Regions from separate parts of the Homo sapiens genome. Here region 1 is linked to region 2. The links come from fine-mapping of genetic effects on gene expression. A gene starts in region 2. The other region holds a variant in brackets. All regions are shown on one strand. Distances are from middle to middle. Region 1 overlaps CASC3 (CASC3 exon junction complex subunit). Region 2 holds the start of MSL1 (MSL complex subunit 1).

Region 1 (5,368 bases), 47 kb after region 2:
CACTTTGTCACCCAGGCTAGAGTCTGGAGTGCAGTAGCGTGACCTTGGCTCACTGCAACCTCCGCCTCCAGGGCTCAAGCAATCCTCCCATCTCAGCCTCCTCAGTAGCTAAGATCATAAGCACACATCATTACACCTGGCTGATTTTTTTTATTTTTTGAAAAGACGGGGGGTCTCACTGTGTTTTCCAGGCTGGTCTTGAACTCCTGGGCTCAAGCAGTCTTACCTCTGCCACCCAGAGTGCTGGGCTTATAAGCATGAGCCACTGCATCCAGCCGGAATTGAACTTTTAATTAATTGAAACTTAAGTGTCCACATTTGGTTAGTGGATATCATATTGGGCAGCATAGTTTTAGAGAGTAAGACCTACCTATTACCCATTTTGCCTATTGTGGTTTGTTTTTCTCCAGCCAGATAGATCAAAGGATCTTCCCTTAGTCTGAAATCTAACTTAAATATTGGAACTCCTCAATTGGAGTTGCAGCACCCTTCTTACTATTGGAGGACAATCTCTAGAACATTCCTTTTTGTCTTGAGTCATTTTAGCCAGAGGAGAATCTCCTTTCAAACTTCCAACCCAGACCCCTGTGAATGGATATAATCAAGTAGATTTACAAAGCATCCCTCCCTTGTCCAGCTGTTGCTCAGAAACTCTTGGGCTGAGATTTTTCAATATGTTGGATAATGTAATGTGCTAATTATAATCTCTCAGGGATTCTATGCAGGGAACAATTTGATAGGAAAAAATTTGAATTTGATTTTCTTCACTGAAGTCATTTTATTTTTCATTTTCAAGGGCTTTATTGCTATATTAAGATGGCAGACAGTGGGGACAAATTTCTAAATGCTGGTGTTGACAGAAAGCAGAGATAGTTTATAGAGAATTTTATTAGTTAAAAGAAAAAAGGCATTCCTTATGTTGACACTTAAACCTGTCTCTTGATAGTATCTTTGAGTCCCACTCACGTATGTCTGATCTGCAGAAGTGACTTTTTTGGTGTATTACAGGTATGCCCAACCATATACACATGGGAGCAGGACCTCCACCTCAGTTTAACCGGATGGAAGAAATGGTACAGAAGGGGAAAGGGGTAGATGGGGGAGGGAGCTGCCTGTTACACAGCTTGTTCATTGTTTAAACCAAGATAAGGTCTTTTTTTTTTTTCTTTTCTTTCTTTCTTTTTTTTTGAGACAGAGTCTCGCTCTGTTGCCCAGGCTAGAGTGCAGTGACGGGATCACGGCTCACTGCAAGCTCTGCCTCCTGGGTCCCAGTTCAAGCAATTCTGCCTCAGCCTCCCGAGTAGCTGGCATTACAGGCACGTGCCATCATGCCCAGCTAATTTTTGTATTTTTAGTAAAGACAGGGTTTCACCATGTTGGCCAGGCTGGTCCTGACTCCTGACCTCATGATCCACCCACCCTGGCCTCCCAAAGTATTGGGATTACAGGCATGAGCCACCACGCCCGGCCAAGATAAAGTCAGTTTTTCCATTGATTATGCATGTTTCTTTTAATTTGGATCTCCTAAATGTAAGGTAGAAGGTTTAGGTTCAAATCTTGATATCTTTTCATTATTTTTCAGCTCACTTTGCAAATATCCATTAAATACCTGCCATGTACCAAGTGTTTTTCAACACCTAAAGGAAGGTAGGACTTGATATGAGAGCCCTCTAGAATTCTTATTGTTTAGGCCTCTTTCTTTGTCTCAGGGTGTCCAGGGTGGTCGAGCCAAACGCTATTCATCCCAGCGGCAAAGACCTGTGCCAGAGCCCCCCGCCCCTCCAGTGCATATCAGTATCATGGAGGGACATTACTATGATCCACGTGAGTTTTTTCTTACTGTTGGGGTACTTTTCTTGGCAGGGTGAAGTGAAGTAAGATACCAGGCTCCTGGCTCCTGAATTTCTCTTCTGACCTCTTATAGTGGTTATCAAACATTGTCTGGTTGCTGTTTTCTTCGCATGGAATATTGAGAACATCTTTTAAAGGGCTTGGGGAACAAGGAGACTTGTCCATGTGAAGAGTAAGGGTTTATGAGAGTCCCAATGTGATATCTTACAGTGCAGTTCCAGGGACCAATCTATACCCATGGTGACAGCCCTGCCCCGCTGCCTCCACAGGGCATGCTTGTGCAGCCAGGAATGAACCTTCCCCACCCAGGTAAGCTTTGTGTCTCTGCTTATATGCTTCCAGTACCTGAGGATATATGTTGGGAGTGCCACAAAACCCATCCTCCTGAGCTTTGTGCTGCTAGCCTGGGAGTCTGGCCATCCTGGCTGCTTGGGCAACAAGTTCCTCTTGTGTCCATCCTGAGGACTTCCATTCTGAGCCTGATTATACTGAGCAGTCCAGCCGGGCCATCCTGTGAAAATGATGTTACTTTATTTTTCAGTTTTTTTCTTCTCCTTATCCAGGTTTACATCCCCACCAGACACCAGCTCCTCTGCCCAATCCAGGCCTCTATCCCCCACCAGTGTCCATGTCTCCAGGACAGCCACCACCTCAGCAGTTGCTTGCTCCTACTTACTTTTCTGCTCCAGGCGTCATGAACTTTGGTAATCCCAGTTACCCTTATGCTCCAGGGGCACTGCCTCCCCCACCACCGCCTCATCTGTATCCTAATACACAGGTGAGATGGCTAATGATCATGTTTTTCTAGATACACATTCTTTAATTCAGACAGGAATGTGGTATGGGGAGAATGCTAAAGGAATTTGAGAGAACATTTTCAGTGCCACTGATTTGT[A/G]TGTGACACCAAGACGCCTCTTAGTGGTCAGGAGCTGGAAATGCAGCTTATGTAATGCCCATCATCTTTATTCTTTTCAGTTTTTTTCTCCGTTGCCCAGGCTTGGAGTGCAGTGGCGTGATCTCGGTTCACTGTAACCTCCACCTCTTGGGTTCAAGCGATTCTTCTGCCTCAGCCTCCCGAGTAGCTGGGATTACAGTGCCTGCCACCATGCCCGGCTAGTTTTTGTATTTCTAGTAGAGATGGCGTTTCACCATGTTGGCCAAGCTGGTCTCAAACTCCTGACCTCAACCGATCCACCTGCCTCGGCCTCCGAAAGTGCTGGGATTACAGGCATAAGCCACCGCACCCAGCGTTCAGTTTCTTTAATGGTGTTTCTTTCCTGTGTTGTGGTACATCATAGGTGGCAATACCTGGTTTTTACTCTATTGCATAAAGAAGCTGTATTCTACTCCTTATCACCCCTACCTCTGTCCTGCTTAACTTCCACCACGTTGACATAATCAAGTATCTGTAGTGTCGCTACTGAACTCAGCCTTTTCCATTTGTCAGCTGATGGTAGGAATTAGAGAAAGCTGGGCAGTACTTTGAAGAAATAAAAACCAGAGCATAATAATGAAGAATTAAGGCAAAAATGAATAGTCACTTTATTTTGAAGGGTGGGCAGATTAGATATTTTTAAAATTATAAATTCCCCAATTCTCTTATGGCTGAATAATATTTCCTGTTCATCATAGGTTGGATGAATTCATTCCTAACTTTTTCTTCTCCTGGCTTGTGGGGTCCCAGGCCCCATCACAGGTATATGGAGGAGTGACCTACTATAACCCCGCCCAGCAGCAGGTGCAGCCAAAGCCCTCCCCACCCCGGAGGACTCCCCAGCCAGTCACCATCAAGCCCCCTCCACCTGAGGTATGAGAGTTCCTTCCTATACTTAATGCACATGCTCCGTCAGTGGGCTTTCCTTCTCCCCAGAGGATTTCCCTCATTTTCTGGGTGTGTTTCTCTGGAAAACAGTCTTTTTGTTATGACCTGATAACAAATTCCAACTTTGTTATTTCAGGTTGTAAGCAGGGGTTCCAGTTAATACAAGTTTCTGAATATTTTAAATCTTAACATCATATAAAAGTAAGTGCACAACTTACTGTGAATATTGTTAAAACTAATGCTCACACTTGCTTAATAAACAAAAATCACTTAATTAATGCTTTTTTTTTTTTTTTTTTTTTTTTTTTTTTTGAGACGGCGTCTCAGTCTGTTATCCAGGCTGGAGTGCAGTGGTGCAATCTCGGCTCACTGCAACCTCCATCTCCTGAGTTCAAGCGATTCTCTTGCCTCAGCCTCCTAAGTAGCTAGGATTACAGGCACGCACCACCACACCTGGCTAATTTTTGTATTTTTAGTGGGAATGGGGTTTCACCATATTGGCCAGGCTGGTCTTGAACTCCTGACCTCAGGTGATCCACCTGCCTTGGCCTCCCAAAGTGTTGGGATTACAGGTGTGAGCCACCCCACCCAGCCTCTGATTAATGCTTTAAGTTATAATAATCATGGGATATCTCAGGAGGCTTAAAGGAGTCCTGAAATTTGCCAGTTTGTTTGTTTGGCAAGTGTATTGGGCAGGGTTGAAGTAGAAACGATTGTTAACATGACAGTTTTCAATTGGGAAGCTACAAGGAAAAAATACAGGAAGGCAGTCAAGGAAAAGGGAAATCTAAATTTGAGATGTTATAGCAGAAAAAACCAGTTCTAAAGATCATAGAGGAGAAGGACTGGGGGTTTTGTTGCTTTTGTTTAAGGACATTACTTAAAACACATTATTTAGAAGTGTGGCTTTTTGAAAACAGCTTGTGAATGCCCAGAAGGCCCACTAACACTTTGGTGGTTCTTCCCTTTTTCCAACCCCTGTCAGAGCAGCAGAGGTGAGAACTCAGAAGAGAAATACAGCTGGCTATCTACTACCAGAAGGGCTTCAAAGATATAGGGTGTGGCTCCTACCAGCAAACAGCTGAAAGAGGAGGACCCCTGCCTTCCTCTGAGGACAGGCTCTAGAGAGAGGGAGAAACAAGTGGACCTCGTCCCATCTTCACTCTTCACTTGAGTTGGCTGTGTTCGGGGGAGCAGAGAGAGCCAGACAGCCCCAAGCTTCTGAGTCTAGATACAGAAGCCCATGTCTTCTGCTGTTCTTCACTTCTGGGAAATTGAAGTGTCTTCTGTTCCCAAGGAAGCTCCTTCCTGTTTGTTTTGTTTTCTAAGATGTTCATTTTTAAAGCCTGGCTTCTTATCCTTAATATTATTTTAATTTTTTCTCTTTGTTTCTGTTTCTTGCTCTCTCTCCCTGCCTTTAAATGAAACAAGTCTAGTCTTCTGGTTTTCTAGCCCCTCTGGATTCCCTTTTGACTCTTCCGTGCATCCCAGATAATGGAGAATGTATCAGCCAGCCTTCCCCACCAAGTCTAAAAAGACCTGGCCTTTCACTTTTAGTTGGCATTTGTTATCCTCTTGTATACTTGTATTCCCTTAACTCTAACCCTGTGGAAGCATGGCTGTCTGCACAGAGGGTCCCATTGTGCAGAAAAGCTCAGAGTAGGTGGGTAGGAGCCCTTCTCTTTGACTTAGGTT
Region 2 (5,367 bases):
CCAGGCTCGGCTAAATTTTTTTTTTTTTTTGAGACGGACTCTCACTCTGTCGCCAGGCTGGAGTGCAGTGGCGCGATCTCGGCTCACTGCAAGCTCTGCCTCCTGGGTTCACGCCATTCTCCTGCCTCAGCCTCCCGAGTAGCTGGGACTACAAGCGCCCGCCACCATGCTTGGCTAATTTTTTGTATTTTTAGTAGAGACGGGGTTTCGCCATGTTAGCCAGGATGGTCTCGATCTCCTGACCTTGTGATCCGCCCACCTCGGCCTCCCAGAGTGCTGGGGTAACAGGCACGAGCCACGACGTCCAGCCTTGGACATACATTTTGAAAGGCAATGGGGTGACAAAGAGAGGAAGACTGGGCTGGGCGCGGTGGCTTACGCCTGTAATCCCAGCTTTGGGTGGCTGAGGTGAGCGGATCATGAGGTCAGGAGTTTGAGACCAGCCTGACCAACATGGTGAAACCCCGTCTCTACTAAAAATACAAAAATTAGCTGGGCATGGTGGTGCATGCCTGTAATCCCAGCTACTCTGGAGGCTGAGGCAGGAGAATCGCTTGAACCCGGGAGGTGGAGAGGTTGCAGTGGGCTGAGATTGTGCCACTGCACTCCAGCCTGGGCAACAGAGCAAGACTCCGTCTCAAAAAAAAAAAAAAAAAAGAGTAAGACTGTAGAAGTGGTATTTGGGTGTTTGGGTGGGAGGAATTCGGGAGCTTGATTTTTAGATGTAAGTTTGAAATACCTAGGCCGGGCGCGGTGGTTCACACCTGTAATCCCAGCACTCTGGGAGGCCGAGGCGGGCAGATCACGAGGTCAGGAGATGAGACCATCCTGACTAACACAGTGAAACCACGTCTCTACTAAAAAATACAAAAAATTAGCCAGGCGTAGTGGCAGGCGCCTGTAGTCCCAGCTACTGGGGAGGCTGAGGCAGAATGGCGTGAACCCGGGAGGAGCTCGCAGTGAGCCGAGATCGTGCCACTGCACTCCAGCACTCCAGCCTGGGCAACAGAGCAAGACTCCACCTCAAAAAAAAGAAATACCTATTAGACATCCAACTGGGTATGTATACTAGACAGTTGGATATATGATTCTGGAGTTAGGGGATGAGTCCAGAAAGAAATATAAATTACGGAGCTGTCAGCGTAGAGATGGTGCAGAAAGTCTTGACGCTGAAGGCTGGGCACAGTGGCTCACTCCTATAATCCCAGCACTTTGGGACGCCCAGGTGGGAGGATCGCTTGAGCGAGTTCAATACCAGCCTGGGCAACAAAGGCTGGTATTACAAAGGCCCGTCTCTACAAAAAAATAAAAAGTTAGCCAGGTGTGGCAGCCCAAGCCTGTTGTCCCAGCTACTTAGGAGACTGAGGTGGGAGGATCACTTGAGCCCTGGAGGTTGAGGCTGCAGTGAACCATAATTGTGCCACTGTACTCTAGCCTTGGGGACACAGCAAGACCCCAGTGCCACAAACACACAAGCCTTGACATGGAAAGAGATCACCACATTCTATGTGCCCTCTCATCCCTGCTCACTCCATTACTTGGTGTCCCTAAGCTCAATACTTCCCTTGCTGATCTGAGGCCATACAGTCTGGTGAAAGAGGGCCGGACTCTTGGCTTCTTAACACATTCACATACGTTTGTTTAAAATTTCCAGTGTTTCATGCTTTCAGCCCACAAAGCACAGACACAGTTTTAATGAGAGGTTTTCACATCAGGCCAGAGAATGTCAGTCTTCTCCATCTCCATAGAGATTTTAAAAAGCACACCTCAGACAAAAAAGAAAAACAAGCAATTAAGACTATTTCAGGGCTGGGCACGGTGGCTCACACCTGTAATCCCACCACTTTGGGAGGCCGAGGCGGGCGGATCACCTGAAGTCGGGAGTTCCAGACCAGCCTGACCAAGGAGAAATCCTGTCTCTACTAAAAATACAAAATTAGCTGGGCGTGGTGGCGCGTGACTGTAATCCCAGCTACTCGGGAGGCTGAGGCAGGAGAATCGCTTGAACCCCGGAGGCGGAGGTTGCAGTGAGCTGAATTTCACCATTGCACTCCAGCCTGGGCGACAGAGTGAGAATCCGTCTCAAAAAAAAAAAACGTTTTTTTCACAAGGAATTCTGAGGACTTGTTGGCTCAATTGCTTGGACATAAAGACACACATACATGAAGCTGGAGAGATAGGAAGAAGCGCTCAACACAGAACACCCTAAGTATCCCTACTCCCTTTCAAGGACTAAATCCCTTCAGAGATTTCCTTTGCTTCAGTCCTTCAGGAGCCTCCCGAAGATGCTAGGAGTCGTTTAAGAAGGCTGGAAGATGGCCGTTGGGAAGGAACTGTTGGTAGCTGGCAATACTTCATCCCAAGGAGGCGGTGGCAATAGCTCCCTGGGCAGCAGACATCATGGATTTTCCTCCCTCTGGGAACCAGAGGTCCCTCCGTTTCTGGTTTGAATCCCTTAGAGACAAAGAACTTCATTCTCTCCCATACCCGCGTGGGACTGCTGGGGAGGAGAGGGGGTGGAGGGGTTAGACTTCTACCCCCATGAAACACCCGCGGGCTCAAAGAGGAGCCTGGATCCTGACTGGTCCAGGAGGCGTGCGGGGCCGCGGGGCCCCTCCGGCTTGGGCCAGGCGCGTTGCCAAGATGCCCGGGGAAGGGGCCGCCCGGCGCAGGCCGGGGACGTGGAGCGCTCGGGGCGCTCCCACGTAGGCCACACATTGGCCGCCTGTATCCTCCTTCTTTCCTCTCAACTCCATTCTCTCGCGCTTTTTTCCCGGGGAGCCTCCGCTTTCCCCTTCTTCCCGCGGCCGCCCTCGCCCTTCTTCCCCCTCCAGACCCTCCCCCGGCTCGCCCCTCCCTCGGCAGCCCACCTTCACCCCGCTCCTCCGCGCGCTCCTCGGTCCTCGCCCCTCAGCCCCGGCCTCCCCTCGCCGGCCCCCGGCCCCCGCGGTCCCCTCCCTGCCCCCCTCGAGGCGGCGGCGGCCCCTTTCACAATAGCGCGGCCCGCCTCCCTCCTCTCGGCTCCCGGTGCACTCCCGCCCGCTCCCCTCCCCGCGCATGCGTCCTCCGGTTGGCGGCGGCTGCGGCGGTGGCGGCTACGAGCGGCTCCGTTTTTTTAAAGGGAAACGCTGAGGCGCCGGGGGTGACTGTGGGGGAGGGGGACCCCGAGCCGCGGAGACCCCCGGGAGAGGCGACAGACCCCCTCTCCCGGAGTAGGAGGGCTTTGGGCGGACCCAGCCCTCCACCCCCTCCTGAGGAGGAGGGGGGGGAAATGGAGGCTCGGGGCGGTTGAGGCGAGCTCCGGGGCGGGGGGCCGGGGCGGGGAAGGGGGGGTGCGGGGTGGGGAGACGAGGCGGGCCCGGCCGGGCCAGGGGGGGCCGAAGCGAGCTCCGGGGATGAGCTCGGGGGCGGCTGGGTGCGAGCTCCTGCCTCTGAGGCGAAGGCGGCGGCGGCGGCAGCAGAGGCGGCGGCGAGGCCCCCATGGGCCGGCGGCGGGCCTCAGCCGCGGCCTCCACGTCTCCGCACGCCGGCGGGATGGCGCCCGGGCCCCGGAGGAGCCGCGCTAGCGGAGGCCTGCTGCCGCGCTGCTGAGGCGAGCCCGCCAAACTCCCCTCCCCCCCCTCAGTCCTCGACCCCCCGCACCTCGCCCCTTCCCCACCCCCTCCTCCGCCTCGGTGCCCGGCGCTGCTCCGGACCACTATGACCATGAGATCCGCGGTGTTCAAGGCGGCCGCGGCCCCTGCCGGCGGCAATCCTGAGCAGCGACTGGACTACGAGCGGGCTGCGGCGCTGGGCGGGCCCGAGGACGAGCCTGGGGCGGCCGAAGCCCACTTCCTCCCCCGGCACCGTAAGCTCAAGGAGCCGGGGCCCCCGCTGGCCTCCTCCCAGGGCGGGAGCCCCGCGCCTTCCCCGGCCGGCTGCGGCGGCAAGGGCCGGGGCTTGTTACTCCCGGCCGGGGCGGCCCCCGGGCAGCAGGAAGAGAGCTGGGGCGGTTCGGTGCCCTTGCCCTGTCCGCCCCCGGCCACCAAGCAAGCCGGCATTGGGGGGGAGCCTGCCGCAGCCGGAGCCGGCTGCAGCCCCCGGCCCAAGTATCAGGCGGTGCTGCCCATTCAGACGGGCTCTCTCGTGGCGGCGGCCAAAGAGCCTACGCCCTGGGCTGGGGACAAGGGTGGGGCGGCCTCCCCCGCTGCCACCGCCTCGGACCCGGCGGGACCCCCACCACTACCTCTGCCCGGGCCGCCACCCCTCGCGCCCACCGCCACCGCCGGGACCCTGGCGGCCAGCGAGGGCAGATGGAAGAGTATGAGGAAGAGCCCTCTCGGGGGTGGTGGCGGCTCGGGAGCCTCCAGTCAGGCCGCCTGCCTCAAACAGATCCTTCTGCTGCAATTGGACCTCATCGAACAGCAGCAGCAGCAGCTGCAGGCCAAGGAAAAGGAGATCGAGGAGCTGAAGTCAGAGAGAGACACGGTACGGGAGGGGTTAATCTGCATTCGGGCCGAGGAGCGAGTTGTGCGCATGCTCGGGGGAAGGGGGCTGTAGGAGGTTAAGGCACCCCCGGGTTAGGGGTAAAGGAGGTTGGCCACCGGCAAAGGAGTATCTTAGGCGCTGGGTCTCTGGGAGCCAGGCTCACAGACACGTTGGGTTGGAGGGAAGGGTTAAAGGGCAACCTCTCAGGGGGAGGGGGAGGGGTTTCAGGTGCCAAAGGGTTAATTTAAAATGACAGCCCCAGACGTGTGGGAAAGACGTTTAGTGGAAAAAGACGTGATCTGTGAGGGGTTAAAAATGAAAGGGTGGGGTGTAGGTGTTGTGTCCTTATGGAAGGGTTAAATTAAAGAGCTATTGCGTTAGAAATGCACGGTGGAGGAGAGGGCTGTAGCAAGCAGCTGTTGCTTTCACCACTGCTGCAGCATCTTTAGATAGGAGGGCAGTAGGCCTTTTAGTGGGCACAGGGGTAGAGGTGATTTACGTGGAATCCTATTTTAGTTTTCTTAAATGATATTAAGAGAATCACTGCCTTTGATTTCAGACAGCTTTTAATAGGAACCTGAGTTCTAATACATGACCCACTGACCAGGTCCCTTTTATAAGCATGGTGTTTGAAACTGGAAGATTTTAGGGCATCAGGGGAAAGTAAGCTTATTAAATGTATTAAATAGACCTCCCCATCCTTATTTTAGAATCTTAGGGAGTAGGAAAGTCGTTTATTATTTCTTTACTTCTGAGGAGCTTGGACGACACAGGCTTGTTTTTACTGCAGCAGTAGTTAAGGGCATCTCTGCGTTAAAACATATTCCTTCAGATATGAGGGAAGCTGGGGTGGGGGGTATTACTGTGCTAGCATACCTTACAGCTGCCTAAAAATAAACA

Evidence for each region.
Region 1: its variant is fine-mapped to the expression of MSL1 in whole blood (INTERVAL, PIP above 0.99).

What each region holds. Positions count from the first base shown.
Region 1 is chr17:40,165,789-40,171,156 of GRCh38, forward strand. CASC3 (CASC3 exon junction complex subunit) reads left to right here. Exons shown (of 14, transcript NM_007359.5): 8 at 1,009-1,073; 9 at 1,710-1,824; 10 at 2,062-2,160; 11 at 2,415-2,629; 12 at 3,536-3,658; 13 at 3,810-3,874; 14 at 4,659-5,368. The coding sequence ends at 3,833. Among named protein-coding and RNA genes, the nearest start is that of MIR6866, 6.5 kb to the left of the region's middle. RefSeq lists an enhancer at 2,276-2,835. The variant A/G (reference allele first, on the strand shown) is at 2,747.
Region 2 is chr17:40,118,914-40,124,280 of GRCh38, forward strand. MSL1 (MSL complex subunit 1) reads left to right here and starts at 3,058. Exons shown (of 9, transcript NM_001365919.1): 1 at 3,058-4,467. The coding sequence starts at 3,700. It overlaps LOC124904001 (a long non-coding RNA gene), which reads right to left and starts at 2,927. Exons shown (of 2, transcript XR_007065752.1): 1 at 2,871-2,927; 2 at 1,616-2,500. RefSeq lists silencers at 2,509-2,668, 2,899-3,098, 3,139-3,348, 3,409-3,548, 3,649-3,698 and 1 more and an enhancer at 3,899-4,537.